Homo sapiens: one gene and its partners. The protein of the gene in region 4 interacts with the protein of the main gene of each other region in a pairwise test. Each region holds a gene or a part of one and is shown on either strand. Other genes may lie near its edges. The genes, in order: CIAO1, APPL1, PAGE3 and MEOX1.

Region 1 (6,617 bases), on a different chromosome or scaffold from region 4:
TGATCCACCCGCCTCGGCCTCCCAAAGTGCTGGGATTACAGGCGTGAGCCACCGCGCCCAGCCTAAGCTTTTTCTCATCTGGCAGATTTGCCTTGTACTTAAAAGTATCTCTAAGGAACTCAAAGCTCCTAGGCCCCAAAGACTAGACCTCTAATAGTAGTACCTTGGACTTAGTGGCAGGTACTAAGTGGGAGAAGGTACCTTGGCACAAGGAAATGAGCCAGAACCAACAAATGAATTCATCTACTTAAAAAATTAAGTCTGTTTGAGACAACTTTTGATAGTATTAAAATGTTAAATCTAATTGTATTTCGGGAAGAAACTTTGGAAAGCTATCTGATTTTTGTTCTCTCTTTTGTAACTGTACCATTTTCATGGTTGCCTATGGTCATCAAGTTTTACATGCTGAAATTCTTGGTTTTGGATCACTGCAGAAACGTGAAGAGGGCTGGTGGGTGGTGATTGGAGATGCCAAGTCCAATAGCCTCATCTCCATCAAGAGGCTGACCTTGCAGCAGAAGGCCAAGGTGAGTGTGTCCACTGGCCCTAGCATTTGTTCTGGCATGGGGGAAGGGTGAGAATGCTTCCTGTGTCCATGCTCATCTTGATTTCTGCCTGCTCTTTCTAGGTGAAGTTGGACTTTGTGGCCCCAGCCACTGGTGCCCACAACTACACTCTGTACTTCATGAGTGACGCTTACATGGGATGTGACCAGGAGTACAAATTCAGCGTGGATGTGAAAGAAGCTGAGACAGACAGTGATTCAGATTGAGTCCTGAGGCATTTACTTTTGGGTAAAGGAGAGTTGAGCCTGAATTAGGAATGTGTACATTGTAGGAATCCTGGTTGTGGGGACCAGGTCTGTGGGCCTCAGGTCTGGCCAGCCAGGGCTGGTGCTGTCCCCGCCTACCTCCACTTCCTTTCCCTTGCTCACTCTGGATCCAGTGACAGCAGGTGTCATGGGTCAAGCATAAATCATATATAGCATTTTCAGGCATGTTCCTGGTAGTTCTTTTGAGTCTGACATTCTAATAAAATAATTTGTAGAAACCATTTGTCTTTGTAGTGATTCCAAATTAAAAGTTTTCTTTCTCCAACCTGAGGGCACGGCCAAAAAGATCTGGTTATTTTTTAGCCAGGAACGTGCTTGTTAATGAGTATGTCTGGAGGACAGACCTGCTCATTAGGTGTGCTGTCCCCTGTAGCCTCGTGAGTCAGCCCAGAGGAGGGTACATGCGACTGTGGCCTGGCCTCAGTGGTACCCACACATCAGCACTACCACAAGAACCAACACTGAGCCTCGGAAGCTAGATCACAGGTTAGGGGTTTCTCTAGATGGGGGTTCTGAAATTTGCAGTGTCTGCTCCTGGGAGGCAGCACCAGAAAGGGCACTGAAATGTACTAGCTGGATGTGACCCAGTCTTAATAAACAGGTTTTCTAATCCAGATCTTCCGACTGTCTTCAAATTCTTACCTTCTGTTCTTTAGATTAAATGCACACAAAATTGAAAGATGATTCTGAAGGGCAGTTTCCTCAGGGTAGCAGTTTTCAAATGATTTGGTCTTAGGACCTCTTTACACTACTAAAAACTAAGAAACTCAGGTTTTTGTTTTTTTTTTTTTCTTTTTAAATAACAAATTTATTTTTCACAGTTCTGGAGGTTGCCCCAAAAAGCTTTTATTATCTAGATTAAGGTTAATGCACTTTTAAATCATAATGTTAACATTTTTTTTCTTAATAGAGACAGAGTTTAGCCATGTTGCCCAGGCTGACCTTGAATTCCTGAGCTCAAGTGATCCGCCCACCTCAGCCTCCCAGAGTGCTGGGATTACAGGCATGAGCCACCATGCCCAGCCCACGTTAACATTTTTTATGAAGAATAACTTCCAAAACAATCCAAGGAGAAGGGTGGCATTTTACAGTCTCTTTAGTATCTTGTTATAATAAACAGTTGAATTCTTACAGCTGCTTCTACATCCAAACTTTTTTGTTGAAGTAAGTTGACTTCACACAGATACGCAGTTGGAAAAGTTTTTAAAATAGCCTTTTCAGCTAATTGTGGCTATTCTTTGATACCACACCAAGACTACAAGTGATTTTTTTTTTTTTTTTTTTTTTTTGAAATGGAGTCTCGCTCTGTCACCCAGGCTGGAGTCCAGTGGCACGATCTCGACTCACTGCAACCTCCACCTCCCGGGTTCAAGCTATTCTCCTGCCTCAGCCTCCCGAGTAGCTGGGACTACAAGGGATCTGCCACCACGCCCGGCTAATTTTTGTAATTTTAGTAGAGACGGACTTTCACCATATTGGCCAGGCTGGTCTTGAACTCCTGACCTTGTGATCCACCCACCTTGGCCTCCCAAAGTGTTGGGATTACAGGCGTGAGCCACCGCGCCCGGCTTACTACAAGTCATAGTTTCTTAAAGGCAATGTAGACTCCGAAAACTTAATGCACTCTTATATTGTTAATACATTAAAATCCACTGGCCTGTCTTACACTTTTGAATCAATCTTTGAGCCATGCATGATTTTGTAACATCACGTACTGGTCACTTGGAAAAATGGTTCATTGAATTCTTCCAAATGAAATGCATTTCATTATACAAATCACATTTGTTAATATCCCCAACAATAAAGCTCATGGTGGAGTACAGATTTTCGGAAATTCCAATTTTTGCTTGAAAGCTTTATCACTGGCAACACTATCAGTTGTTTCCCTTGAGGTGAGAGGCTCATTCCATTAATTTCCAGAAAATATCAGCCAAATATTCAAGTCTAAATACCGTAATCTGCTAGTTCTTTCAATTCTAAAGGGCATGCCTTGAACACAGCCAATTCAGCTTGCAACTCAACTGTGTAACTGCTTTTCCTCAAGGCACCCATACTTCAGTGCACAGCAGAGGGGCTTTATGCATGCTTCCAGTTTTCTCAGAATATTATAAATTCTCAAGGTCAACTTTTTTTTTCTTTTTGAGACAGGGTTTCACTCTTGTTGCCTGGGCTGGAGTGCAATGGTATGATCTCGGCTCACTGCAACCTCCACCTACCGGATTCAAGCGATTCTCTTGCCTCAGCCTCCCGAGTAGCTGGAATTACAGGCATGCACCACCATGCCCAGCTAATTTTGTATTTTTAGAAGAGACGGGGTTTCTCCATGTTGGTCAGGCTGGCCTCGAACTCCCGACCTCAGGTGATCCGCCCGCCTCAGCCTCCCAAAGTGCTGGGATTACAGGCATGAGCCACTGCGCTGGCTAGGTCAACATTTAATAGTTAACCATTGCTATTTGTTCTATCAAGGACATATCAAAACTACTAGAAGTTTGCTGCCACCACCTTGATTCATGCCACAGTGCCAACAGTTGACCTCACAGATCCTCCCTGAAAGGGTCTTGGGACTCCCAGGATCTGCAGGCCGCATTCTTCGAGAACCACTATTCTAGGTACAGCCCCACTGTCCTTCTAAAATCTAAGGTCACAGCTTAAACTTCAGGGAAGGCTGTAGTTTTGGAGGCCATTGTCACATTAGAACCCATTTAGAAGTGACTGTCAAGAGACAACTTGAGTGAGTCTGAAACTGCCTGCTGATGGCAGTGTTTCTCAACTGGTTTAAATCGCCAGTCCCCTAGGAAGCCTTCTTCCTGATCACTCCCTGCCATGAAAATGGAATATCACAGACACACTATATGTGCTGTGGGCCTTAGGAGGGCCACAAACAACTGCTTGTGATTTTTTTTTATCCTTACTGAAGAACCAATTTGCATCCCTGTTGAGAATACAGGGCTTGTGGCCAGTAATAACTCTCCCTTTTAGGATTCCTGTCTTTCCCCATTTTTTTTCTATCCCCAGTTGCCATCACAGCGTAACGGTGCAGGGAGGTATATGAGGGTTGCTAAGGGAAAGCAGAGGTGCCCCTCACTCAAACCTACATTCAGAAAAAAATTTCCTTCATTATTGATTGGATGTCTTAAATGCAAAGACTTACACAGAAACTGGGAAGGGAGGACCTATTTCAGACAAGGATTCACCATGGAATTTTTATGAATATCCTTATAAAATAGGACTTGGGATGCAGATGGATTATTTCTTTAAGTCTTGCAACTTCAGAAAAGCCTGAGACACATACCCCCTCCTACTATATATAGTGATTATAAATAGTATATTTACCTCCAAAAAATTTAACACTGTGCCCTAATGCAAGAAAAATCTGTGGTATAACAATGTACTCATGTTCTGTAGCTCTTTACTGAAGGCCTCATGTCAAAGGCGGGGAAGGAAAGCAATTCTGTGGCTCTGCACTTCTACCCAAGTCTGAAGAGAAGTGAGCCAAGTTAAATGAAGGTCAAGGATGCTCCTCCTGGTCCTCTCAGGGGCTGGTAAAGTCTTATATGACGTTTTCTGGGGAGTCATTACTCTGTCCAAAGTCGAGGTAGCTCAGAGGCCTTCAGGCCGCTGATACTTCCAGAAGGCCACCTCCCCATCATCACTGCAGGAGGCCAGTAGCCCTGGCTCCTTGGGGTTCCAGGCCACACAGTTGACATCCTGGGAATGGGCCTGATGCAAGTGGGCTGTCAGGGAGAAGGTGGGCTGCTGTGGATCCGAGTTGGGATCCTCCTGAAACACGCGGATCGCGTCATCCCCACAAGCTGTGGCCAGAGCCCCTGTCAGCTGACACCTGGAAGGAAAGTGACATCAGTGGGTATACCTGACTAATTAGGCCAGAGAGACCTGTTCCATAGTTCCTGGCCTGTTCTCTTCCCTAACTTCAGGCCTCAGCTAAAAACCTCTTATTAAAATGTTTCCTTAACTAATAAGGAGTCACAAATATCACCCACTTATATCTTCAGATGCTGCAATCTAGTTCTTTCCCCTACTATGATTATCCTAAAAAACGACATGCAATTATGAACTGCACTTTCCTCACTTGGCATAAGCAGTTTCCCATGTCATAAAGTTGTTTTTTTTTTTTTTTTTTTGAGATGGAGTCTTGCTGTGTCGCCCAGGCTGGAGTGCAGTGGCACAATCTTGGCTGACTGCAACCTCCCCCTCCCAGGTTCAAGCGATTCTCCTGCCTCAGCCTCCTGAGTAGCTGGGACTACAGGCATGTGCCACCATGCCCGGCTAATTTTTGTATTTTCAGTAGAGACAGGGTTTTATCACATTGGACAGGCTGGTCTCAAACTCCAGACCTCAAGTGATCCACCTGCCTCAGCCTCCCAAAGTGCTGGGATTACAGGCCATGAGCCACTGGGCCCAGCCATCATAAAGTTTTTTTTTTTTTTCTTTAGATGGAGTCTTGCTCCATCACCAGGCTGGAGTGCAGTGGCGCAATCTCGGCTCACTGCAACCTCCGCCTCCCGGGTTCAAGCGATTCTCCTGCCTCAGCCTCTGAGTAGCTGGGATTGGGTGCGTGCCAACACGCCCAGCTAATTTTTGTATTTTTAGTAGAGACGGGGTTTCACCATGTTGGTCAGGCTGGTCTTGAACTCCTGACCTCATGATTCACTCACCTTGGCCTCCCAAAGTGTTGGGATTACAGGCGTGAGCCACAGCGCCTGGCCCCATCATAAAGTATTCTTAACCCCTTTCTTTAAACAGTGATACAACAAGCTGAGTTCTACCATAATTTACTTAAGTTCACTTTTGTTGAATAGGTGATTCCCAAATGTTTGCTAATATAAAGCAAGCTTAAGTGCTCAGTTTTTTTCACTGTTTTGGATTTCCTAGGGATCAATTCTCAGGGCCAGAACTACCCTCTAACCTACTCTCCTATATGAATGGTGCAGCTTTTCCAGCTTCCACAAGGCCAGAGTCAGTGTTACCTATAAAAACCCCAGCCACTGCCAGGTGCGGTGGCTCATGCCTGTAATCCCAGCACTTTGGGAGGCCAAGGTGGGCGGATCATGAGGTCAGGAGATCGAGACCATCCTGGCTAACGCGGTGAAACCCCGTCTCTACTAAAAATAAAAAATTAGCCAGGCATGGTGGCGGGCGCCTGTAATCCCAGCTACTTGGGAGGCTGAGGCAGGAGAATGGTGTGAACCCGGGAGACGGAGCTTGCAGTGAGATGAGATCACGCCACCGCACTCCAGCCTGGGCTGCAGAGTGAGACTCTGTCTCAAAAAACAAAAAAACAAAAAAAAACCCTCAGCCACGAATGCAGATTCAATAATAACTTCTGGACAGCACGAGCTGTGCGAACCTCTAGCGCTGGTGCTACCCTCACAGCCTGGGACTGTTCTCTGCTCCTGTGAATGCCAGCCCAGCCAGCTGTAAACCAGCATGGTAGAGTCAGGCCTGATAAGGAATGGGGGTGGCTGCCCTCAATTCCCAAGCACTCCCCCAGGGTTGCAGAGGACTGCATAGGGTATGCCTTCTCTAAAATCCCTGATTTATGGGGATGGGATGGGGTGGGGGGATGGAGTCTTACCAAGCAATGTCATAAATGGTCCTTGAGTGGAAGCCGGACAAAGTACAGATACATTTCCAACTGGGGTCAGAGCCGCTGCATGCCACCCCTGCAAGACAGACTTCTCTTGCCCTTAAACGTTCCTATGTCCTGGGCACCTCAAAGGAGAACCTAACTTACCTTCCCTCACCCTCATCTTCAACTGATTAT
Region 2 (8,586 bases), on a different chromosome or scaffold from region 4:
GGAGGTGGAGGTTGCAGTGAGCCAAGATCATGCCACTGCACTCTAGCCTAGGCGACAAGAGCGAAACTCCATCTCCAAAAAATAAAAATAAAATAAAATAAAATTAGCTGAGCTTGGTGGCGTGTGCCCAGGAGTTTGAGGTTTCAGAGCTATGGCTGTGCCACTGCAATCCAACCTACGTGACAGTGAGACTCTGTCTCAAAAAAAAAACAAAAAACTTACCATGAGCTTTAAAAGTCTTCATATTCTTTGCTGCTCTGCTTCTTGGACTCTATTCTAGATAAAATAGTTCAAACTGAGAAGAAAATTTATGCTCCAAAGCATTAATCTCAGCCCTATTTATAAAAGCAAAACTTTGGGAAAACTCTAAAAGTCCAGCAAAGGGTTGTGAAATCAGTTAAGGAAATGTGTGGTCTTCAAATGTTTTTATTTGGAATGTAAAAACATGTGAAGATACTTAAGTGATAATGTTAAGTTAAAAGCAGGATAAAGATCATTATGCACAATATAATCTCAATTCCATTAAAACATGTAGAAGAAAAAAAAAACAGTAGAATAAAGAAAGCAAACTGTTAATAAGGTTTTGCTGGGTAACCAACAGGTAATTGTGTGTTATTCTTTTCTGGACCTTCCAATTTTTCTGAAGGAAGCAACTATTATTTCTTTTTAATCAGGGTCAAAAATAAAAACATGTCATTAAGACACAACAGCTGAGGTTCAGAGAAGTTGAATGATTTGCCCTAAAGCAGAAGGTAGTAAAGTGGCAGTGATGACTAAAAACCTCGTCAACCCTAGATCCAAGGCTTTGCATTCTGCCACAGGTTCGACCTAAGAATCACCTCCAAGTATGTACACTTCCTAAATCCCAGTTGTACCAATTAATTTTCCCAAGTAAATTTTACCTAGTTCAAATTTATTGCCTTTCAACATTGAAGGGATATCAATGTGTCTACTTCATTAAAAATTAGCTGGCACAGGCCAGGCGCAGTGGCTCACACCTGTAATCCCAGCACTTTGAGAGGCCAAGGCGGGCAGATCACCTGAGGTCAGGAGTTCGAGACCAGCCTGGCCAACATGGCAAAACCCCGTCTCTACAAAAAGTACAAAAACTAGGTGGGCGTGGTGGCACACGTCTGTAATCCCAGCTACTCAGGAGGCTGAGGCATGAGAATCACTTGAACCCGGGAGGCAGAGGTTGCAGTGAGCCAAGATTGCAACATTGCACTCCAGCCTGGGCAACAAGAGCAAAACCCCGTCTCAGGAAAAAAAAAAAAAAAAAAAAAAAAAAAAGCTGGCACAGTGGCACACGCCTGTATTCCCAGCTGCTAGGGAGGCTGAGGCAGGAGGATCACTTCAGCATAGGTGTTCCAGGACACAGTGCACTACGATAGTGTCTGTGAACAGCCATTGCTCTCCAGACTGGGAAACATAGCAAGATCCCCATCTCAAAAAACAAACAAATATATTGTAAAACGGACACTAGTATGATGCATGCTTGTAAAGAAAAAAAAAAACCACAATTCTTAAGTTGTAAACTAATCTGGCAAAAACCTCAAGACATTAGATGAGTCAAGAGTTTATCTCTGCCTCACAAGTCATTTCCAGGGCAGTGTGCAATCCATTCTGAGCCGTTTATAGTCTTTATGGGCTATTAAAAAAAAAAGCCAAGTAAGAGAAGAAAGGTAAGGCAACCTGTTGAATCTTACATAATAAAAAGTAAAATGACAAAGTACACCTGACCAATTCCACAAACTTTTTGCAAATCATCTGAAACAAATACAGTTTATAACTTTATATGGAGAAATCATCAAGAAAAAAATTGAACCGAGTATACTGGCAGTCAAGATAAACCAAATGTGAGTTTCTCTTTTTGTCACTATCAGCTGTTAAGAGTACATTAGCAGCAGGCAACTGGCCTGTGAAGATAACTTTCAGAATAAAAAAGAACAAATCAATTCTACAATCAGAGCCCCATTTCAACTTGGCAATTAACATTGGCACAAAATCCATGGCAGAAGTGCCATCCAGGAAAAGGAGATCTAGACCTCTTCTGCTTTTCTTCTTTGGGGGCCATGTTCAACTGTAAAGACACACGAAATGGTGCAACTGCATTTCTAAATCAGCAACAATTCAGAAATGTTTCATTCTAAATAGTGTCCAACCAGCAACACCGTCTTAAACCGTTTAAATTATCGTGTAAAACGGCTTAGAGATGAAGTTTTCCCTATGCAAGTTACAGCCCCTGCCAACATTTTAAAAAATATAGCTGCTTTCATTCTGCAGTACTGAAAACATATTAAATGGTTACATTTTCCAAAACTGTCTTAAGCTAGAGCAACCACATCAGCATCATTCCGACGCACAGAACACAGGGCTTTTATTTTGATGAGTTTATTAAGGCCAAGTCTGCAGGGAGCAGCGCAGCAGTCGCGGAGCGGCGAAGGCACCGTCCATCCCTCGCCGTGCACAGCTCGAGTGACAGCGACCACAGTCACGGCCGCGACACGGGCACATTCGGCGGGGAGAGCGGTCTTGGGCTCCGGGACCCGTCACGGGCTTTGCCATTAGGGCTCCACACACAACCTTACAGCCTCTCCCAAAGAAAAACGATCCATTTCCTTCCTTAGCTTGCTGAGCCTCGGAAATCATTAAATAAGACTATCGGGGTTTCTCTCCCTTCTGCAATTTTTCTGAAGAGGTTCTCAGGGAGAAAATTCCAGGATCGAGATTTGGCACCTCACATCACCGCGATAAAAACGGCGCCTTTCGTCAAATAAAAAGGACCCGCGCGCGTACGTGACCGCCCGGCCCACGAGCACCAGCGGCTCGGTCTCCGCCTGCGGCCCTCGGCCCAGCCGAGCAGGCCCACGCGGGCCTTGGGCGGCGGGCCCAGCCTCCACAACTCCGGGCGCGGCCTGCGACGGGCGGTGACCTAGGGCGGCGGCGGCCCCCACCTGGGCCGGGGCGGGCACCTGCGGGAGCCGCGGAGGCGCCAGACCTGGGGTCGGCCAGCTGGGCTCTCCCTCGTCGCCCACCAGCTCCCGCGCCTCACCTGCGGGCTGTCCTCCAGCGTCTCCTCGATGGGCAGCTTGTCGATCCCCGGCATCGTGGCGGAGGGAGGGCGGTGGCAGGAGACGCAGCTGCCGCCCACAGCTCCCCGCGCCGGCCCGCCCGCCGCAGCTGACCCCGGCCCGCCCTCTCCGGCAAGGGCTGCAGCCGTCCCCGCCCGCACAGCCTTCTCCAGGCGCCGAGCGGCCGTGCGGGAAATCCCGCCCCCTCGGCCTCCCTGCCCCGCCTCCCGGCGCGTCCATTGGCTCCCGGGGACGCCCATCCGCGCTGCGGCGGTGGTCGGGAGGTTCCCGTGCGGCGCTAGGCTCTCCCGCGAGCGCGGGCGTCGGAAGCGGCGGAGGTGGCAGTGTCTGCCCTGGGATGGCCTTCCCTGCACGCGCGCGTTTGTATCTAAATCGCAGGGGACCGTCTCTTCCTCAGCTTGCCGGCGCGAGGAGCCAGAGCCTCGAGTTAGGGCCACACGGGGGAATTTGGGGCGGGTTGACTTTTCCCGCAACATATTTTGTCAGAGACCTTGGAGAAAGTCCTACTGCTGGCGCCTTTTAGTTTCCTCAGATGATAACATTCCCAACTCCGCTCGAAGCGTCCAGTCTTAATCCCCTCCAGCAGAATGGTGCTGACTAACTCAGATGTCTGAGATCCGCAGCTGTGTCAATAATAGGGCTTTCTGGCAAACTTGTGAACGTAGGCTCGAAATTGTTTTTCTGGACGCTTGAATATCAGTATATTCAGTTGAAAACATGTGATTTTGTTGCCAGTTTATCAGTTCCTACCTGGCCTCCCGAGGTCAGTCCTTCAGGACTGACGCTGCAACTCCAACTCCCATGTTTCTTTTAAATCACAAAGGAAAATATCTTTTAAAAATCAGGATACACTGATTAATTATGTTAGTAACTAATTGGCATTTGTTGAATCAAAAAGTTTTGGAAGCGTTAAATAGTTTTAGCCTCTAATTTTACAATAAAGTGAAGCTCAAAGTTGGGAATTTGACCGGATGAGGGCTACAAGCCTATCCTTTCCTCCTCCCTCTTCATCTTTCCCAACCTGTCACCCTGGCTCGTTTATGTCTCTGTATAGTTGTAGGCTTTCATCATTATACAGAGAAAATAACAAAGTAAGTAGTGTCTTCTAAACATCTAGCCATTAATTCCACCAATCCATTCCATTTTCATTCAAGAAATACCAGAGATGCTGAGTAAAGATTAATTAGCTGCCTGGTTCCACAGATACATGGGAACAAATCCAGAATAGTAGTAGCTCAAATCCAAATATAGTAACAAATAGAAGTTATATATTTTAAACGAAAATAGTAGATTTTCCCATGATCTCTTGAAAGAAAAATAAAATTATATTTTTAAAGTTTTGTTGAGTAGACTTGCATTGTAGTTTTACGGAATTATTTTTAGTGTTACAATCTTTAAAAGTTTTCCCCTTAGATTGTTTATCAGCCAGTCTCTCTCTCCCGAAGAGTTCTTTAGTTTTTGAGGAAGTTGATTTGGAGGCAGTTCTTACAATGAGTTAAGGGTTCCCAGTTGTGTTACAGTTTCTTTTTCCTTGATATCTCATTTCTACTCTGCCAACAAGAACACCATGCACCCCAGCTCTAAAGAAGGAAGACTTTCAAGGTAAGTGACCTTCCTGATTGAACTGAGTTAGATTTTAAATGAAGAAAGGTTGTGGCAACTGTTAAGAATCAGGAGTAAGTGAGGAGTGTAAACAATGTATAAGAAAGAAAAAAAAAAAGGCCTGGCGCTGTGGCTCACGCCTGTAATCCCAGCAATTTGGGAGGCCGTGGCAGCTGGATCACCTGAGGTCAGGAGTTCAAGACCAGCCTGCCCAACATGGCGAAACCCAGTCTCTACTAACAATACAAAAATTAGCCGGGCGTGGTGGCGTGCCTGTAGTCCCAGCTACTCAGGCGGCTGAGGCAGGAGACTCAGTTGAAGCCGGGAGGCCCAGGTGCAGTGAGCTGAGATCATACCACTGCGCTCCGGCCTGGGCGACAGAGCAAGACTACGTATCAAAAAAAAAAAAAAAAAGAAAAGAAAAGAAAAGTATTTGTTACCTAATTAACTTGGCCAAACCAAATAATTCCGATGAAAAATTCGATTAGTTATCTGAATTATCTGGGTGTGGTATTGTCAAGTTAAATGGTTTCCTTCTTAGTATGTTATGTACATCTAAACTGTGTTTCTGTAAAGGACTCTCAAGAGGCCATTACATTATCGCAGAATGGCAAGGAATTCTTGCCGGACTCAGCTGGTTAAAAAATAAAACAGGCTGGGCGCGGTGGGGCTCACGCCTGTAATCCCAGCACTTTGGGAGGCTGAGGCAGGCGGATCAAGAGGTCAAGAGATGGAGACCATCCTGGCCAACTGGTGAAACCCCGTCTCTACCAAAAATACAAAAATTAGCTGGGCATGGTGGCACACGCCTGTAGTTCCAGCTCTTTGGGAAGCTGAGGCAGGAGAATCGCTTGAACCCGGGAGGTGGAGGTTGCAGTGAGCCGAAACTGCACTCCAGCCTGGGCGACAGAGCGAAACTCTGTCTCAAAAACAAAAAATAAATAAAAATGAAAAAATAAAACAAACAAAAACAGGTTCACATTCAGTTGGATGGAGAGGTAGGTTTAGTCAAATCTAGTTTTAACCTATTTGTACTAGAATCCAGTTTTAACCTTCCATTTGGATTCTCTAGCTTTAGGCCACTGTATACCCTGCTCATCCAAAAATATGGTTGTATTTCCTAAGTTAAAACATCTCCAAAGCTGCAAAATTCATAGTCCTTTTTGATAACCACTTTAAGTTTATTCAGCCTACGTTTTGTGCAGTTAACCAAACTCAGTTCATTTTAAGCCAGTTTTCTTTCATACAGGAAATGAGGCTTGTTCAGAGAATGCCTTAGGGGTTACTGGCGACTCGTGTGGGTAGTAGAGTAAAAACTTTGGGCAACTGGTTAATTTTATGGAAAGCAAGTCAGGATTAAACAACATCCACTAAAGATTTCTTTGAGATGTTTCACATATATACCTTGAGACATTTCACACGTATAATTTACAACAAAAGGACGTACAGTCTTGTAAATAGAGTTGTTAATTATTAGTCTCCTAAAATTATATTTGGTCTTATAATTAGGTTTTTACATGATACTCCTTGAAGTTCTGGTCTGTGATCTGTAATAGGAAAGAATCCAATAACCCAAGTGATGCTGGTGCTTTACTTTTAAAAATTATCCCTTTAGGTCAGTGGTTTCCAAACTTAATGCACACATAAAAGTTATCTGGGAAGGTTGTTAGCATACAGATTCCTGAGCCCTGCTGGAAGATTTTGGTGTAGTAGGTCAGAGTCAGGGCTGGGAATCTCTCCAGTTAAGTCTGAAGTGGGTAATCCACAAACCACATGAGGAAAAACTCTATCCAAGATGGAGAATGATCATTTCCCTTTCCTAAATCACTTTGTATTTAAAAAAAATTTTTAAAGAGTCAGGTGGGCACAGTAGCTCATGCTTGTAATCCTAGCACTTTGGGAGGTCAAGGTGGAAGGATTGCTTAAGCTCTGGAGTTTGAGACTAGCCTGGGCAACACAGAGACACCATCTCTACAAAAAAAAATTAAATTAAATTAAAATTTTAAAAAATTGGCCTGGTGCAGTGGCTCATGCCTGTAATCCCAGCACTTCGGGAGGCCGAGGCGGGTGGATCACCTGAGGTCAAGAGTTCAAGACCAGGCTGGGCAACATAGTGAAACCCCGTCTCTGCAAAAATTAGCTGGATGTGGTGGCAGGTTCCTATTATCCCAGCTACTCGGGAGGCTGAGGCAGGAGAATCGCTTGAACTTGGGAGGCGGAGGTTGCAGTGAGCCGAAATCACACCACTGCACTCCAACCTGGGTGACAAAGCGAGACTCAGTCTAAATTAAAACAAAAATTAACAAAAAATAAAGAGTCAAGCAAACATTTAGAAAAGGAATCCTAGATTCCAGCTAAGGATGGTGAGGACATGATTTCCAGGCTAACGAGCTGGAAACCACCTACTCACAAATATTCTCTAAAAGACTCCATCAATCTAAAATTCTGGGAAATTCATACTCCTTTTAAAGAGTGTAATGTATAATGCAAAAAATTCTGGTTGTTACCTAGTAAATCACTCCTTAATAGGACTAACTTTAACAGATAATTCATTATTTTCTTAATACCAGCTGAGATAAAGCAGATTCAGGAAAGAGCAGATTTCAAGAAAATTGATAATTTGGGAACTTCAGTCATTTAATCTATTTTAAAACATTAGAGCCAGTAGCAGAGTAGGGGGAAGCTTTGGACAATTGGAGGGTAAAACAAAAAGTTCTGAGGAATGGGTTGCAAAAAGAGGTGGGAGGGCACTAAGGACCAACTGGTTGGTTCTTCATTGTGCCACTGCAAACTAGCTTCTGCCTTTGACCTTGACCTTGATGTCACTTTTACTCATTGCCACAGCATCCTTAGAATGTGGGACAATTCTGCAGCTTCAACTTTCTTGATGGTAAAAAGAAAAAAAAAAACTTCTAGGAAAATTGTATATGCTTTTGTTTATCTATGGTTGCCTTGATTCCTTTTTAGAAGAACACATTAATTAATTTGTCTGAGCAGGCCAAGAACTTTAACACAAAATAGCATCATAGCCCTTCTGTGGAGAGGTAGATGAGAACATGGTTATGAGCTAATAAGCTTGGGCTGTGATTTAAATTCTGGCTCCACTGTTTAGTAGCTCTGTGACTTAAGTAAGGTTATTTAACTTCTCTGTTTCTCCATTCTGCCATCTGAAAAATGGAGCTTAATACTAGAGAACTTACATTAATAGTATTGTTAAGATGATTAATGAGCTTTTAGAGTAGCTCCTAGCGCAATAAGCATTCAGTAAAAATTATCTTTTTCATTATCAACTATTAAATATTAAAATATTTTAATACATTTAAGGAAGCTTTTTTGTCTCTATCATATTTTTTTAAAAACTAATATTTTTTAAATCAGAAGATTGGGCTCATTACCTTAGAGAATCCTGATGCTATTTTAAATAACATTAGTTACTCTTGCTAATGTTTTATCACTTTGATTTGGGGGCTTTTGAGGCCAAAACCAAAATTTCAAAATCAATAAATATGTACTTTGAAATTCTGGAGGAAAAGTGTACCAAAACAATTACCAAAATAGCCAAGATTATTGCCATTTTGAGGTTTTTAGGAGTTTTTGTTTTGTTTTTTGTTTTGTTTTTTGTTTGGCGGGTGGTGAGTGGGTAGAGGTGCCCCAAAGTTAAAAGATTTTCATGACACTTACCCCACATGGGAATTCTGGAAGGAACAGTCAAATCATTGGGGAAAAAATTGCTCATAGGCTGGGGGCGGTGGCTCACAGCTGTAATCCCAAAATTTTGGGAGGCTGAGGTGGGAGGATCGCTTGAGCCCAGGAATTTGAGACTAACCTGTGCAACATAGTGAGACCGTGTCTCTACAAAAAATTTAAAAATTAGCCAGGTGTGGTGGCACAT
Region 3 (8,450 bases), on a different chromosome or scaffold from region 4:
AAAAGAATAAATGACAACTATGTTGGAGTTCAGGAAGACAAGAGTTATTTTTGACAACATTAACAGCAACTAGGATTGGACTTCAGACAAGACTGGGTGCATTCAGGGTGGTATGGCTGTAGATGGATTGGACTTCATGTATTTGTTTTCCTGCATTACAAAAACCTCCATTTTAAATGACATTATAAGGACAAACCACAAAACATGTGCCGTCCTTATATTTTACCATAGTGCTGTAAGGGGAATAAACATCAGCCATCCAGGAAATCAGAACTTTACACCATGGATAAGATTTAAATTACATTTAAAATATAATTTTATGAAGAATTAGCTGAATGGATTTGTAAGCGTATGACATATCTTATAGTCATGACACCCATAACCTATTGGGGTAACAAGAAACTTATTTTGTTAAAATAAAGTTACTTTTAGGTCCAAAGGTCTTATATGTTACTTTCCATAAATGAATTCCATATATAATGAAGTTGTAAAAACAACAGCAAAATTATTTGTGAATACAGCAAAATCGTTGACTTCCAGCAAGAATAATGGGAAGTGGAATGGAAAGAATTTAATGGGTATTATTGTCATCATAATTCTGGGACTCTTTCAATAGTGAATTGCTAAAATAATCTATGGCTTGAGCTATGTAAATATTTTGCTCCAAAATGCCATACCTGGAAGAACTAATTGTTTCATGATAATCGTAGGTACATAACCTTTTGATGTTTCTAGCCATAAGAGGATTTAACCACCTTTTAAAACCACTTAAAAATTATACTGAACCAGCTACCTATATGCCAATATCCTGAATTGTTCAGCTATTAACTAAACTTTCCATACACAAATTTCAATCAAAGTAAACAGTGGCTATCATTCATTGAGTCATTCTCTGGAATCACATTCTGTTCCACTGAATTGGGTCTATTCCAATGCCAGTACTGAGCTATCTCACAGTATAGACATTTTAGTATTAAACAGTTTAAGCAAAATCATTCACTTTTTCTTACAGCAATCTAGATGGTAAGAAGAATACATACTTTGGAATAATATACAAATTATTTCTCCACCAGTGAAGTGCCCTTTGGTAAGACACAATCTCTGAGTCTCAGTTTTCTTACTTATCAAGTGGGATTTATATTTCTATGCAAGCTCATTTAATCCAAGGTGTTACATATGATATATATATATATATATATATATATATATGTAATATATATATCACATACCATATATAGATTTATATCTCGATGCAAGCTAGTTTAATCCAAAGTGTGAATTAGTGTGGATATGAGATATATATACATATATATAATATATATATGTGATCTATAATATATGTATAATGCCTTAGCACTCTACGCATGCTATTAAAAGTTGCTTAAACTTTTAATATAATTACTAAGAAGGACAGACAATATTCTAAGATCAAGTTTAACTAGTGAAATAGTATACAATTTGGAGTAAAATTAAACATAGTTTCCCTGGATTTGCTAATGAAATGCTCTGGCAAGCATAACAAGTAAGTCTTGAAGGTCGAATGCATTATACTAAGGGACTGCCCTTGGCTGTAAACTATGCCTTCTTCACTTTTCCAGCCAATTTTCAGGAAATGTTTGAGATCTCTTTCTATTGCTTTTTTCCTCCTTTTACTTCCATATCATAATACATGATATATACATACACCCCCTCCATTCATAGGCATTCTTCCTCTCCCACGCTTCACCTTGGAAGTCCAGTGCTCCCTCGTCTCTCTCTTGACCAGGTGTATAATCCTGACTTTCAATTGGTGGTTCCTCTTGTTGAAGCTGGTCATTACTGGGCAGCTCCTGGGCCTAGGAATATGAGTGCGTGTGCAAATAAAAAGGTCTGTTATTAATAATGCATGTCAATAATATACATATACTCAATATACAAATATATCTTACCATAAATAAGTCTAAAGACATTTTTTTCCTACACAATTCTACATATACTTATTCTTAATAGTTACTACAAGAGAAAGTTACCCTTAAAAACTTGGGAAGCTATTTGAATCCAGGCTGGAATTGATGTATACAATGTGTTATGAATAAGCAGGAGAAGGAAGCCATAGAGAATATTTCTGGGGAATATAAAAACATAGCCATCCAGGCAACATTAGAATGCAAACATCCAAATCTATGTTTACTTCACGAGATTCAATTATTACCATTTACAAGCATGGAAAACCTTATTAATATATCAATATTAGTTCAACAACATTTTCACAAAAATAAGTTTCTAATAGAAAATATCAAATGTTAAAATACTCACAACCACAGCCCCTACTGGATGATTAGAGTCTTGATCATCTCTTCTTTCTCTAGATCTGGATCTTGTTCTTTGATGTCCACTCATGTTTCACTCTGAAAGTGGCATACTGTGATTCAGAAAATGTACATAAGAGTGTATCATTTGACCTTTTCCATGGCTAAATTGGAAAGCATGCAAGCTCACGATTACCCTGGGACTTAATTTTAAGATGTTTTCAAAAATTTTTAGGTATCATCTAATTTAGCCAAATATGGCTGCTTGCAAAGTCATTAATGTTATGGCTATGGTAGCAGGCAAGGCTCATGGCAAGATAGAGGACTTCTCTGTGAGTTTTGGTTTCACAATTAGACTCTCCATCATGAAGATATCTAGGAAAATATAGGTAGAGAATTGGAACCGGAGTGACTACTGCTTTTGCCCCACTCTCATTTACTCAGCCCATTTACCCCCTAAAATCAAGTTTTATTGGAACGCACAGCCTCTCCCATTCCTGCCCGAGATGTCAGTGGCGGAGGTGTGAAGTTGCAAAGCCGAGTGAAGGGCATGCTCCTCACTCTCTGCCACCGTGGAGCGCTCTACAGACCTCGGGGCAGCGGTTATCAGCCCGCAGTGTTCCTAGTTTCCAGGCCCCTTCCTTACTGCCCACCTCGCCCTGCCACTGCCCGGTTAAGAACTGGGGAATCTGTCCTCCCTCTCAGGGTTCCAGGCCTTTCGGCACTCAGATACCTCCAACAGCACGCCCAGCACTCGCCCCATCTTCACGTGATTCCTCCCCTCTACGGTCCACCTTCCTCCGTCGTCCTGGCCCAGAAACGACGACAAAGGCCCATGGGGCGTCGCGACCTGGGAGGAGCCGGACGTCGACGGCGAGGCCCTTTTCTCTCAGAAGCCACGGACTGTGGTTTCTGTGCCGCAGGACCTGTCCAAAGCCCGCTGGCTCCCCTTCACATTCACTCACAACTAAATTCCCAGGAGGACTGATCTGCGGACCTACCAGCTGAGTCCCAGTCAGTGAGAAAGAATGAAGAGGACAGGAGGACCACCTCTCAGGGCAGAGCTCTGAGCGCAGACAGCAGACAGCAGACAGCAGACAGCAAGGCACATGCGCAATAATGGACATGCCCAGCAACGGACATGCATAGGGATGCAGCTTGTGTTACGTAGGCTGAGGTTTTCTTGCCTCTGTTGACTAGGAGCCACAAGGTTTCTTGAGTATTGAAAGGGGCTTGCACAGCTCTTTTACTTTTCCTTCCTAAACTTTTTGACATCTAAAGTAAGGGTCCCTGAGGCTCGAGGTCAAATTAACTATCATGCCCAATACAACTCTCACACTTCCCTCATAAATAGAGGGAAGAGGGATCATAAATACATGACATTTAACTGCACCCCAGGCCCAGCCCAAGGACAGCCTTACACAGGATGGCAAGTGAACAAGAGGGCACCTGTACCTGTTGATCCTTTTTCCTGAGGTCTAGTTTGTATTAACTAACTCTTGCCTTTTGAAAAACAAACACTGTTATCTGAAGTTTAATGTGAACCTTTAAAGATGCATTGTTTTTAGACAAAAAGGACATATTTGATATGGGCCACTAGGGTTACCACAAAATACATAGTTGTTGATGAAATGTAATTTGCATCTTTAATGTAATGAGCAACGAACAGCATTTTAAAGAAACACAATAAAATAAAATAGAAATCATCAGAACTGCATTTAGGATATACACATAGCCTACACACACACACGTACAAACATACATGTTTACACACATATATTTATGTTCAGTCCACATCTCCTGCCCTCAAGCTGGGATTTACACCATCTGCTTCCCTAGTTCTCAGGCCTTCGGATCTGAATTGAAGTACATCACTGGTTTCTGGTCTCCTGCTAGCTTGTAAATGGCAGACTGTGGGACCCAGTCTTCATAATTGTGTGAATCAATTTTTCACACAATGTTATATATATATATAATACACACACACACACACACACACACACACACAGATAAGGAAAAGGGCCAGGATATCAGCCCTACTCACTTCTCTTCAGCACTGTCCTGGTGAATCTAGTTAGTGCAATGAGACAAGAAATGAAATAAAAGGCATCCAGATTGAAAAGGAAGAAGTAAAACTGTATGACTCATAGATAACATAATCTTTCGTGTAGAAAATCTGATAGAATCTATAAAACAGTTACTAGAAACAAGTGAGTTGCAGAATTAAAAATCGATATACAAAATTTAATTGTATTTTTGTGCATCAGCAATACAAACTTGGATTGGCATTTTTAATAGTATGCATTATAGTATCGAAGAATATTAACTGCTAAGGGATGAATCTGAATAAGGAAATTCAAGACCTATAACATATTGAAAAGTACAAAAGATGGCTGAGTGAAAATTTCAGACCCAAATAAAATTAAGAGATATATCTTGTTCATGAATCAAAAGAGTCAATATGCTTAAGATACAGTTTCCCCAAATTGAGCTATAGATTCAAAGCAATTCCAATCAAAATCCCAGAGGGTGTTCTTTTTGGAGAAATTGATAAACTGATCTTCTAAAGTAAAGAGAAAGTTTTTAGGCAGAATCAGACAAGTGCAGAAACATATATACATGAGTACAACCACTAATCAGACAAGTGCAGCTGCTCTGTCTATGGTGTAGCCATTATTTTATTCCTTTACTTTCTTAGTAAACTTGCTTTCACTTTGCACTGCGGACTCGCCCTGAAATTCTTTCTTGTGTGAGATCCAAGAACCCTCTCTTGGGACATGGGGTCGGGTCCCCTTTCCTGGGACATATTTCTGGCCACCACAGAAGGGACTATAGTGAAGAAACCCTGACCCAATGGCTACCTTTGGGTAAGTGTTGGGGTCCTGTAACATCTCTCTGGTGACCACCGAAGTGATTATACTGCGGAAACCCCCAACCCAAAGGCTAACTTTGGGTAAGTGGTGGGGTCCGGTAACATCTTTCTCGTGAACCACAAAAAGGACAATACTGAAGAAACCTCCCCAATCCAAAGGAAATAGACTGCAGCACTGATTGGATGACTTTGGGTAAGTGGCAGGGGAGCAGGCTAAAGGATGGGATTGGGTTAGAGGCCCAACTTAGGGGAGTTATAGTCTCTCCTAAGACAGAGTGGATTAGAGGCCCCTCTTAATAAAAGGCAAGGACACTTGACTGACCTTGGGTTACAGGCCCAACTTAGGAGGGTTAGAGTCCCTTCTAAGATTTAGGGAGTTAGAGGCCCCTCTTGGTAAAGTCCCTCTCAGCTAAGAACAGGTTCGGCACTATAGGATGTTAACTGCTATTCTCTTTGGATTAATCTGCCTTGCACTCTTTGCTGATGGCTGTAGATGACAGGATTAGGCATGTGCAGGATTAAGGGACATGGGGAGCTTTTTCCTCCTCCAAAAGGGGAAACTTGAGAGCTGATGGGACTGCTTGAAAAAGATCCCTGCCTGACTGACAGTAGCCGCCTGAACTTTTCAATGTCGCTGCAATGGGTGGGTCTTTCTCTGGCCTCCCTGATCATTTTGCCTTCCCCACCCTACCACAGGCAATACTTTCCTTCTCTACTTTTCCTTTCCCTTTCCCTTTCTTATTATTTATTTATTTATTTGACGGAGTCTCACTCTGTCGCTAGGCTGGAGTGCAGTGGCATGATCTTGGCTCATTGCAACCTCTGCCTCCCGGGTTCAAGTGATTCTTCTGCCTCAGCCTCCCTAGTAGCTGGGACTACAGGTGCGTGCCACCATGCCCAGCTAAGTTTTTTTTTTTTTTTTTTAGTAGAGACGGGGCTTTCACCATGTTGGCCAGGATGGTCTCCATCTCTTGACCTTGTGATCTGCCCACCTCGGCCTCCCAAAGTGCTGGGATTACTGGCATGAGCCACTGCACCCGGCCCCCTTTCTTATCTTTTCTATTATTCAGGGTGACCATCTTGCCCAGAGACCACGTGTTGAAACTCCAAGTCAGAGGTTGGATTAAAGATGATGGAGCCCATCTGGGGGCAAATTTAAGCCTTGCCAGTTTGATATTGGGTGCTAAGCAGAGTGGCTAATGTCTATGTTCTATCACATGTAGTTTGCTCCAGCCAGAATGAAAAAAAATAATTTTCCTTTATGATGCAGCTTGGCCCCCAGGGCGATGGTGCCACAAGCCGGATCACTAGGGCCGCTCAGGGAAAGGGAACCCAGAAGCCTGGCATGCCGACAAAAGGGTAAGAATTTCTTACCAGTCAGATTTCTGGCTTCTCTTTCTCTGTGTAAATGGTTGAATGAATTAAAGAAACAAGCTAGTGTTTATCTCCTCTGTAAAGTTTTGATTAATGTGAAAAAGAATTCTAAGACTAGTCTTAAGCTGGTGTGTTTTGTGCTATGAATTCGTTTTTCTGTGTCGAGGGATACTTCAGGATAAAACATGGGCTTAGAACACCTGTAAACCTGTTTTTCAAGATGATCCAGAAAGCTGGTCAGTAACTACCTTGGCTGCGGGTCCCTGAAACAAACAAACAAAAAACCCAGATTAAGTATTCACGTTGTTTTATGTCCTTGGGAGCTTGACCTTTTAACCACGTGGCCATACTTTTGTTTGGTCTCCACATTCAGGGACCAGGAATTTTAGGTTCATGTCATAGTTAGCTCTAAAAACCATATTGAATAGTTAAAAGCCTTTGCAAGCTCAAAATTAACTGCTCTAGACTCCTTCTGGGAAAGAAGCTGAAGACTACTGTGAGCTGTAGCTCACTAGCTAAGGTATGGGACTTTCGCAGTGGTGGTCCGAGTTCGTATTCCTCACCTAGGAAGTAAGTCGTTTCTGGTTTAATGTTGTGTAAGTTTGTCAATTATGTTCTCCTCCATGGACTGTCTTAAATTTTCCTTTCTCTAAGCACCTGGGAGAAATTCAAAAACCAGAAATATTGGCGGTTTGGCATAAGAAATACTAAAAGGACTTTATCAAAACGTGCTAAAAGCAGATGTTCAAGCTCTAACAGCCAAGACTCCTTGGGAAAAACAGGAGGCACCAGAGACCCCTTTCCTGGCCCTGTTCTTCCAAGGGCTACACGCTAAAGCCAGTAATCCAATTAAGAAACTTAAAAACTGGCAAATGAAAAACCTTACAACTACTGTAGTAATCGTCTTCTGTCTTTCTGTGTAGCTATATAAGTGTTGTGTGTAATGTTTATATAAAAGAGCTCTAACTAATTGACTTAAACAAAAATAAGCACTTAAATAAAATATTTTAAAAGCAAAATAGAAAGTGTAATGCCACGGGGAGGAACCAAGATGGCCGAATAGGAACAGCTCCAGTCTACAGCTCCCAGCGTGAGCGACACAGAAGACAGGTGATTTCTGCATTTCCAACTGAGGTACCGGGTTCATCTCACTGGGGAGTGTCGGACAGTGGGTGCAGGACAGTGGGTGCAGTGCACTGAGCGTGAGCTGAAGCAGGGTGAGGCATTGCCTCACCCGGAAAGTACAAGGGGTCAGGTAATTCCCTTTCCTAGTCAAAGAAAGGGGAGACAGACAGCACCTGGAAAATCGGGTCACTTCCACCCTAATACTGCACTTTTCCAATAGTCTTAGCAAATGGCACACCAGGAGATTATATCCCGTGCATGGCTTGGAGGGTCCTACCCCCACGGAGCCTCGCTCATTGCTAGCACAGCAATCTGAGATCAAACTGCAAGGTGGCAGTGAGGCTGGGGGAGGGGCACCAGCCATTGCCAAGGCTTGAGTAGGTAAATAAAGCTGCCGGGAAGCTCGAACTGGGTGGAGCCCACAGGACCTCAAGGAGGTCTGCCTGCCTCTGTAGACTCCACCTCTGGGGCCAGGGCATAGCTAAACAAAAGGCAGCAGAAACCTCTACAGACTTAAATGTCCCTGTCTGACAGCTTTGAAGAGAGTACTGGTTCTCCCAGCATGCAGCTGGAGATCTCAGAATGGACAGACTGCCTCCTCAAGTGGGTCCCTGACCCCCGCGTAGCCTAACTGGGAGGCACCGTAGAGTAGGGGCAGACGGACACCTCACATGGCTGGGTACTCCTCTGAGACTAAACTTCCAGAGGAACGAACAGGCAGCAACATTTGCTGTTCACCAATATCTGCTGTTCTGCAGCCTCCGCTGCTGATACCTAGGCAAACAGGGTCT
Region 4 (8,168 bases):
GGATCACGAGATCAGGAGATCGAGACCATCCTGGCTAATATGGTGAAACCCCATCTCCACTAAAAATACAAAAAAATTAGCCGGGTGTGGTGGCGGGTGCCTGTAGTCCCAGCTACTCGGGAGGCTGAGGCAGGAGAATGGCATGAAACTGGGAGGCCGAGCTTGCAGGAAGCCTAGATCGTGCCACTGCACTCCAGCCTGGGCGACAGAGTGAGACTCCGTCTCAGAAAAAAAAGTCTGGTGCTATAGTCTTTGCTGAGAGTCCCAGGCGGGGTGGGTTGGTGAGGGGGAAGCGCAGCAGCTTTCAAGAGGGGATGGGGAGAGGCATGGGTAGTTCTGGGTTTTGTTTATAAGTTCCATATGTCACCCTCAGCTGTCACCAAAGGAAGTGTGGGCTTGAGACCCAGGCCCACTGCTCACGCTGTTCCTGTACCTCTGCATGCAAGAAAAACAAGGGGGAAAAAAAAAGAAAAGAAAAGGAAGGGGGTGGGTCCTGGCCAGAGGCCAGGGAGCCAAATTGGGTGAGAAGCCCAAGTTATGGGCAGAGAGGGAGTTGGGGAAAAGGGCCAGCTCTGGAGGTCTGCAGGGGCTGTGAGTCCTGTCTCTCAGGCAGAAAGGATTCTCTGCCTCTGAGTTATCCCCCCTCCCTGGGCCCAAGTGCCCGTGATTTATTCAAGCCAGAGAAATAGGTGAGCGGGCAGGAATCCTGAGTCCCTAGCATGGGAGAGTGGCGGAGCAGAGCTGAGGTGACCCCTGGGCTGACCTTCTTACAGCTCACGGGCTCATTGGATCTTTCCCTCTTCGATGTTGGTCAGGATCCTGCTGCCTCAGCAGAAACGGACTTTCTCCAGAGTTTCCGACTATACCTGATCAGGGGCCTGAGCAGGCCCAGGCGTGGGATTTGTGCTGGAGCCTCTGAGTTCAGATGGTGGCCGAGGCCTGGGTCCTGCTTTGGGCTCTGAGCTTTCTTTGCTTGTCAGAAGAGGAGGTCAGGAGCTCTAATCAGGAGGCCGGGGATGCCCAGAGGGATACTGGCTGAGTGTGGAGTTGCTGTCTCCCCTCCCACGCTGGCCACTCTGGACCATAAAACTTCTTCCTCACTAGGGGTTCTGGACATGGACTCGGGACAAGAGGAGCTGCTGCAGCGGTGCACCCCTCAAACCACACCCCACCCAGCACTGCCACAACCCTAAGCCAGTAGCATCGTCAGAGTCAGGCAGGCCCGGCTGACAGCAGGGGGCAAAGACTTCAGCAGAGCTCAGGACACTTTGGCCTGTTTTTGAACGTGGGAAACCTGATGCAGCCAGCCAGCATCAGGGGAGGACTTTAAAGAGAGAGGGGTGCTCATATGTGGGTTTGGGAAAACTGGAGCCAGGGGTTACCAAGTGTTGGCTGTGGACTCTACATCTCTGATATCATTTAGTCTCACAGCTACCCACCTTATGAAGTAGGTACTGTTACCCTCATTTCTCAGAAGAGACTCAGGGAGGGTTAGGACTCACCCACGTCCACACAGCCAGGAAGTTGTGGATCAGGGACCTGAACCAGGGCTACCTTGTTAATTCGCTTGACCTTAGTCTCTGACCACCCTTCCTCCTATTACTGTACCGTGGCCCAGCAAGAAGGTGAGCATGGGCATGAGGTCACTTGTATGGGACTTGGCATCACTCTGGCGACCCAGGTGACACTTATTGGGGTTGTCCATTTATTTCATTCTCATCTCTACTATTGCTTTTTTTTTTTTTTTTTTTTTTTTGAGACGGAGTCTCACTCTGTCGCCCAGGCTGGAGTGCAGTGGTGTGATCTCGGCTCACTGCAAGCTGTGCCTCCCAGGTTCACGCCATTTTCCTGCCTCAGCCTCCCAAGTAGCTGGGACTACTGGCGCCTGCCACCACGCTTGGCTAATTTTTTTATATTTTTAGTAGAGATGGCATTTCACCGTGTTAGCCAGGATGGTCTCGATCTTCTGACATCGTGATTCACCAGCCTCAGCCTCCCAAAGTGCTGGGATTACAGGTGTGAGCCACCGTGCCCAGCCTACCATTGCCTTTTTTTTTTTTTTTTGAGACGGAATCTCACTCTGTCTCCCCAGCTGGAGTGCAGTGGCACGATCTTGGCTCACAGCAACCTCTACCTCCCTGGTTCAAGCGATTTTCCTGCCTCAGCCTCCTGATTAGCTGGGACTACAGGTGTGAGCCAACACGCCCAGCTAATTTTTGTATTTTTAGTAGAGACAGGGTTTCATCATGTTGGTCAGGCTGGTCTCAAACTCCTGACCTCAAGTGATCCACCCACCTTGGCCTCCCAAATAGCTGGGATTACAGGCGTGAGCCACCGCATCCAGCCCATGCCTCTTTTCTCCTTTCCTCTGTCAAACAGCTCCCTTCTTTAGAGATTCACTCCTAAAACTGCCTCCACTTTTTTTTTTTTTTTTTGAGACAGAGTCTGGCTCTGTCACCCAGGCTGGAGTGCAATGGTGTGATCCAGCTCACTGCAACCTCCACTTCCCAGGTTCAAGCGATTCTCCTGCCTCAGCCTCCTGAGTAGCTGGGACTGTAGGCGCATGCCACCACGCCCAGCTAATTTTTGTATTTTTAGTAGAAATGGGATTTCACCATTTTGGCCAGGATGGTTTTGATTTCTTGAGCTCATGATCCGCCCACCTCGGCCTCCCAAAGTGCTGGGATTACAGGCGTGAGCCACCGCACCCGGCCAACTGCCTCCACTTTTTATGTCTGTACTTGTTGGTGTAAGATAGGAAATCAGGGATCTGCTTGTGGCTAGAAACAACTTCCTGTCTCAGTGGAAAAGCTCTACCAGCCGACAGGACCCTGAGCTAGGAAAGCTCTGGGGTCAGGCACACATCTGGGTGCTGCTTTCACTAAAGGGGTTTTCAACTGAAGGGTCTGTGCCACAGTTTGAACCTTGTCCCTTGTTCCTGTCCCCGTACAGTCCTGTACAGTCCCTATAAGGGCAGAATTGTGCTTCCCTCCCCAATTCCTATGTTGAAGCCCTAACCCCAGTACCTTAGAGTGTGTCTGTATTTGGACATAGGGCCTTTAAAGAAGGGATTAAGTTAAAATGAGGCTGTTAGGGTGGGTCCCAATCCAATCTGCCTGATATGCTTATAAGAAGGGGAGATTAGGGGCTCATGCCTGTAATCCCAGCACTTTGGGAGGCCAAGGCGGGCGGATCACCTGAGGTCAGGAGTTCGAGACCAGCCTGGCCAACATGGTAAAACCCCTGTCTACTAAAAATGCAAAAATTAGCCAGGTGTGGTGGCACACGCCTGTAATCCCAGCTACTTGGGAGACTGAGGCAAGAGAATCACTTGAACCTGGGAGGCAGAGATTGCAGTGAGCCGTGATCACGCCATTGTGCTCTAGCCAGAGCAACAGCAAGACTCTTGTCTCAAAAAAAAAGAAAAAGGAAAAATTAAAAATATGGTCAGGTGTAGTGGTTCACACCTGTAATCCTAGCACTTTGGAAGGCCGAGGCAGGAGGATTGTTTGAGGCCAAGAGTTCAAGACCAATCTGGCCAACATAGCGAGACCCCTGTCTCTATATTTTATTCTAATAATAAATAATTTTTTTGGAAAATTAAAAATATAATTACTACATAATATAGCAATTTCCCTTCTAGGTATACACTCAAAAGAATTGAAAATACACTCTCCAGCCGGGTGCAGTGACTCACACCTGTAATCCCAGTGCTTTGGGAGGCTGAGGCCAGTGGATCACGAGGTCAGGAGATTGAGACCATCCTGGCTAACACAGTGAAACCCCGTCTCTACTAAAAATACAAAAAATTAGCCAGACGTGGTGGTGGGCGCCTGTAGTCCCAGCTACTCGGGAGGCTGAGGTAGGAGAATGGCATGAACCCGGGAGGCGGAGCTTGCAGTGAGCTGAGATCGCGCCACTGCACTCTAGCCTGGGTGACAGAGTGAGACTCCGTCTCAAAAAAGAAAAAGAAAAAGAAAATACACTCTCCAGGAGGTATTTGCACACTCATGTTCATTGCAGCATTATTCACAACTGCCAAGAGGTGGAAGCAACCTACATGTTCATCAACAGATGAATGGATAAAGAAATTTGGTGGCCGGGCACAGTGGCTCACGCCTGTAGTCCCAGCACTTTGGGAGGCTGAGGCAGGCAGATCACAAGGTCAAGAAATTGAGACTATCCTGGCCAACATGGTGAAACCCCGTCTCTATTAAAAATACAAAAATTAGCTGGGCGTGGTGGCGTGTGCCTGTAGTCCCAGCTACTTGGGAGGCTGAGGCAGGAGAATCACTTGAATACGGGAGGCGGAGGTTGCAGTGAGCCGAGATCGCGCCACTGCACTCCAGCCTGGCAACAGAGTGAGACTCCGTCTCAAAAAAAAAAAAAAGAAGAAAGAAATTTGGTATATCCATACAATGGAATGTTATTGTCTTCAGAAAGAAGGAGGCCAGGCATGGTGGCTCACACCTATAATTCCAGCACTTTGGGAGGCCAAGGTGGGAGGACTGCTAGAAGCCCTGAGTTCAACACCTGCCTCGGCAGCATAGCAAGACCCTGTCTTTCTAAAAAAAAAAAAAAAAAAAAAAAAAAGAAGAAAATCCTGTCACTTGCTACAACCTGGTTGAAACTTGAGGACATTATGCCAAGTGACATAAGCCAGTCACAAAAATGACAAACATTGCATGATTTCACTTATGTAAGGTATCTAAAATAGTCAAATGTTTAGCAAGAGAAAGAATGGTGATTGCTAGGGGGTGGGGGAAGGGAAAAAAGGTCGTTGTTTAATGGAGATAGAGTTTCGGTTTTGCAAGATTAAAAGTTCTAGAAATCGATTGCACAACTACTGTACTGTATCACTTAAAAACTGTTAAGACGGTAACTTTTATGTTATGTGTATTTGACCCCAATTTTTAAAAAAGGAGATTTCAAATATAAGATGTCCCAGGTAAGAAACCTCAGAAGAGTTCCTTTATGAAACAACTGCAAGCTAAAGTGAGAAAATCAACACAGATTCTAGCAGATACTAGACTTCGACATTTCTTAACTGTAGCTTTCTTTGATACTATGTTATATGCAAATGTAGCTATAAATTTTTGAAAAAGAAGAACAAAAATATTCTTGGAAGGGGTTGTTTTTGAGCTGGGTGGTTTTTAAGTAGGACTTCAACAGGCAGAAGTACGGGGAAGGGGAGAGTGCTCTAGGCAAGGAGAAACCACCAGAGCACAGTCAGAGAGGGGGAAGAAAATGCAGGATGTGTTTGCAAGGTCAGTCCCTGGGTGTGGCTTCGTGGCAGGGGTAGTGGAGGGGACCTGGGGCGGGGAGGTGGCCTGTAAAGGGGCATCAGGAGGGAAAAGAGGAGAGAGGCCTATTTGTGGAGTTTTATACCTTAGGCAAATTTGTGGTTGGGCGGAGGCAGGCATAGAGCAGGTCTTGCAAAGAGAAATTGGGGCAGGACAGCTCTGGGAACACACGTGTTGGAGCTGAAGAAGGATGAGACAAATCACGTCTGATTAAAGGCATGTCTCAGCAGAGTGAGGACGTGAGAGCAGGAGGGAGCAGTGCTGAGTTCTAGCACCATGGCTTTCCCAGGCGGGCGATCGGATTCACCTGTAGCCACTCTAATCACACGCAACCTTCCCTTGAACCCCATGAGGAAACCACCGCAAAATCCTTCATTCCCATAAATTAAAGACAACCACAGTAGCAAGGACAGTTTGGGGGAAAACAACAGTGGCCTCACAGCTGTCCCTGCCAGCAGGGGTCTTTAATCCCCATTGGCCTGGGGCTGGGAGTGGTTTGGGTAAGATAACACCATGCTGGTCTCCAGGGTGGGGAAGTGCCAAAGGCCAGGAACCCTGCTTTCTTTCTTTCTCCCCGTTTGTTCATTTTCTTTCTTTCTTTTTCTTTCTTTCTTTCTCTTTCTTTCTTTCTTTCTTTCTTTCTTTCTTTCTTTCTTTCTTTCCTTCCTTCCTTCTTTCTTTCTTTTCTTTCTTTCTTTTTCTTTCTCTCTTTTTCTCTCTGTCTCCTTCCTTCCTTCCTTTCTTCCTTTCTCTCTCTCTTTCTTTCTTTCTTTCTTTTTTTTTTTTTTTTTTGATGTAGTCCCGCTCTGTCACCCAGGCTGAATGAAGTGCAGTGGCGTGATCTCTGCTCACTGCAATCTCCACCTCCCAAGTTCAAGCTATTCTCCTGCCTCAGCTTCCCAAGTAGCTGGGATTTACAGGTGCCTGCCACCACACCTGGCTAATTTTTTTTTTTTTTTTTTGTATTTTTAGTAGAGATAGGGTTTCACCATGTTGGCCAGGTCAGTCTTGAACTCCTGGCCTCAGGTGATCCGCCTGGCTCAGCCTCCCAAAGTGCTGGGATTATAGGCATGAGCCACCGCGCCCGGCCAACCCTTGCTTTCTTGATAATTTCTTTGAGTAGATCAGCTCCAGATTCTACTGGGAGTGAGCGGGGAGCAGTTGAAGGAGATGGCAAAGGAGGAAGGAAGCGCAGAGAACATTCCTCTTACAATAAACTTTCCATTTCTGGAGGCTTCTCAGCCACTCAATATGGGGTGCATTTGCCAGGCCCAACTCACCCCATAACCTCTCCGGCAGGTCTCTGAGCTCCATGCTCCTGATGACAACTGGAACAAAATGATTGCCAGAAGTTCTCTAGACTCAGGAATTTCTGAGACAGCATAATTGAAATATTCAATTCCACCATCCCCATAAATATAGAAATATTTGTCAGACCTTATATTCTGAAGGCTGGTTCAGGAAATATGGGCCTAATACCATTTACAGCTGCTATTTATTGAACTCTTACTATGTGCCAGGCACAGAGTTAATCTCATGGATCACTGCATCTAACCTTCACAGAGAGACTCTCTATGGAAGGGGCTACTGCTATATGCCCATTTTACAGCCAGGGAAACAAAGGCTGGAAGAAGTTATGAACTTTTCCAAAGTCATGCAGCCAAAAGTTGCCGTGCTGACACTGCAGCCTGTCTGTCTGGCTGGGAAGAACTATGGAAAACGCGTTTCTGATCAATGCTGGTTAACCTTCCAGGGACCACTCAGCCTGGACTTGGGGAGGCCCAAATGCAAGGGCATGCCCAACCCCTCTGTAGTCAAGATCAATAATATTTTAAGGAAGGCCGGGCACGGTGGCGCATGCCAGCACTTTGGGAGGCCGAGGTGGGCTGATCACGAGGTCAGGAGTTTGAGACCATCCTGACCAACATGGTAAAACCCCGACTCTACTAAAAATACAAAAATTAGCCGGGAGAGGGGGCGTGCGCCTATAATCCCAGCTACTCAGGAGGCTGAGACAGGAGAATTGCTTGAACCCAAGGGGCAGAGGTTGCAGTGAATTGAAACTATGCCACTGCACTCCAGCATGGGCGTTAGAGTGAGACTCCATCTCAAAAAAAAAAAAAAAAGAATATTTTAAGGCAATATTTGTAAAAATCAAAAGTAATGCAAAAAATTGATAATGAACAAAATATCACAATTTTGGAGAGGGGATCCAATTATAGACTCAGGATTGGCAGGGTTGGGTGGGGGGCTCTCTGTGGGTTTGCCTTTTCTGAGCTGAATTCCAGATTCCTGGAGTAGGTCATGAGCCTTGCGTCACTTTCCCCCTTCTTTGGGCTCTTACAAAGCTGATCTTTCTTGCCTCCTTCCTCCCCTTCAGTTAAATTCCAAAGGAGGATGCAAGCATTGCGGCAATAAAGATTTCCATGCTGAACAGTGAGTTTGTCTGGAATCACAGGGGGATGAGTGAGAGTCAGCTCACTGGGCCCTGCCTCATCTGCTGCTGGTGCTCCTGAGGGGACCCTTAGGGAAGCCCAGGGCCCCTGCGGATGGGAACCTCCCTCCACCAAAGTCTGACCCTGAAGCATGCAGGCCGTTCAGCCGAGGGTGTCCCTGTACTCCTGGGTGGCCAGCTGCTTAGTGTGAATGGTCTCTCTGCATTGCAGGGCCATCGGCCACTCGCCAAAAAGAGAGCTGGTGCATTTGGGTTTTGCTGAGACTCGGAATGCTGGAAGATTCTGCCTGAGCCCAGCAGGCTCTTGGCTTTGCTATCCCTTCCCAATGCCCTTGGCTGTCAGTTCTCTGGAAAGTGGCAGAGAGGAAGGAGCCACAGTGCTGCGTGCCGCCACCAAGGGGAAAGCTCTT

What was found.
Region 1: the proteins of MEOX1 (region 4) and CIAO1 interact in binary tests that used the Homo sapiens proteins (3 or more experiments, as listed by UniProt).
Region 2: the proteins of MEOX1 (region 4) and APPL1 interact in binary tests that used the Homo sapiens proteins (3 or more experiments, as listed by UniProt).
Region 3: the proteins of MEOX1 (region 4) and PAGE3 interact in binary tests that used the Homo sapiens proteins (3 or more experiments, as listed by UniProt).

The regions. Positions count from the first base shown.
Region 1 is NC_000002.12:96,269,167-96,275,783, reverse strand, and holds the end of CIAO1 (probable cytosolic iron-sulfur protein assembly protein CIAO1), read right to left. Parts: intron 6,517-6,617; coding exon 6,429-6,516; intron 4,674-6,428; coding exon 4,433-4,673; 3' UTR 1,611-4,432; downstream 1-1,610. Other genes in the region: SNRNP200 (U5 small nuclear ribonucleoprotein 200 kDa helicase), read left to right, coding at 435-527, 629-772. UniProt on the Homo sapiens protein: Key component of the cytosolic iron-sulfur protein assembly (CIA) complex, a multiprotein complex that mediates the incorporation of iron-sulfur cluster into extramitochondrial Fe/S proteins.
Region 2 is NC_000003.12:57,222,404-57,230,989, reverse strand, and holds the start of APPL1 (DCC-interacting protein 13-alpha), read right to left. Parts: upstream 3,262-8,586; 5' UTR 3,107-3,261; coding exon 3,053-3,106; intron 277-3,052; exon of another isoform or gene 226-276; coding exon of another isoform or gene 223-225; intron 1-222. UniProt on the Homo sapiens protein: Multifunctional adapter protein that binds to various membrane receptors, nuclear factors and signaling proteins to regulate many processes, such as cell proliferation, immune response, endosomal trafficking and cell metabolism.
Region 3 is NC_000023.11:55,261,525-55,269,974, forward strand, and holds the start of PAGE3 (P antigen family member 3), read right to left. Parts: upstream 3,393-8,450; 5' UTR 3,022-3,392; intron 2,402-3,021; exon of another isoform or gene 2,388-2,401; 5' UTR 2,380-2,387; coding exon 2,296-2,379; intron 1,836-2,295; coding exon 1,727-1,835; intron 1-1,726.
Region 4 is NC_000017.11:43,651,094-43,659,261, forward strand, and holds part of MEOX1 (homeobox protein MOX-1), read right to left. Parts: intron 1-8,168. UniProt on the Homo sapiens protein: Mesodermal transcription factor that plays a key role in somitogenesis and is specifically required for sclerotome development. Required for maintenance of the sclerotome polarity and formation of the cranio-cervical joints.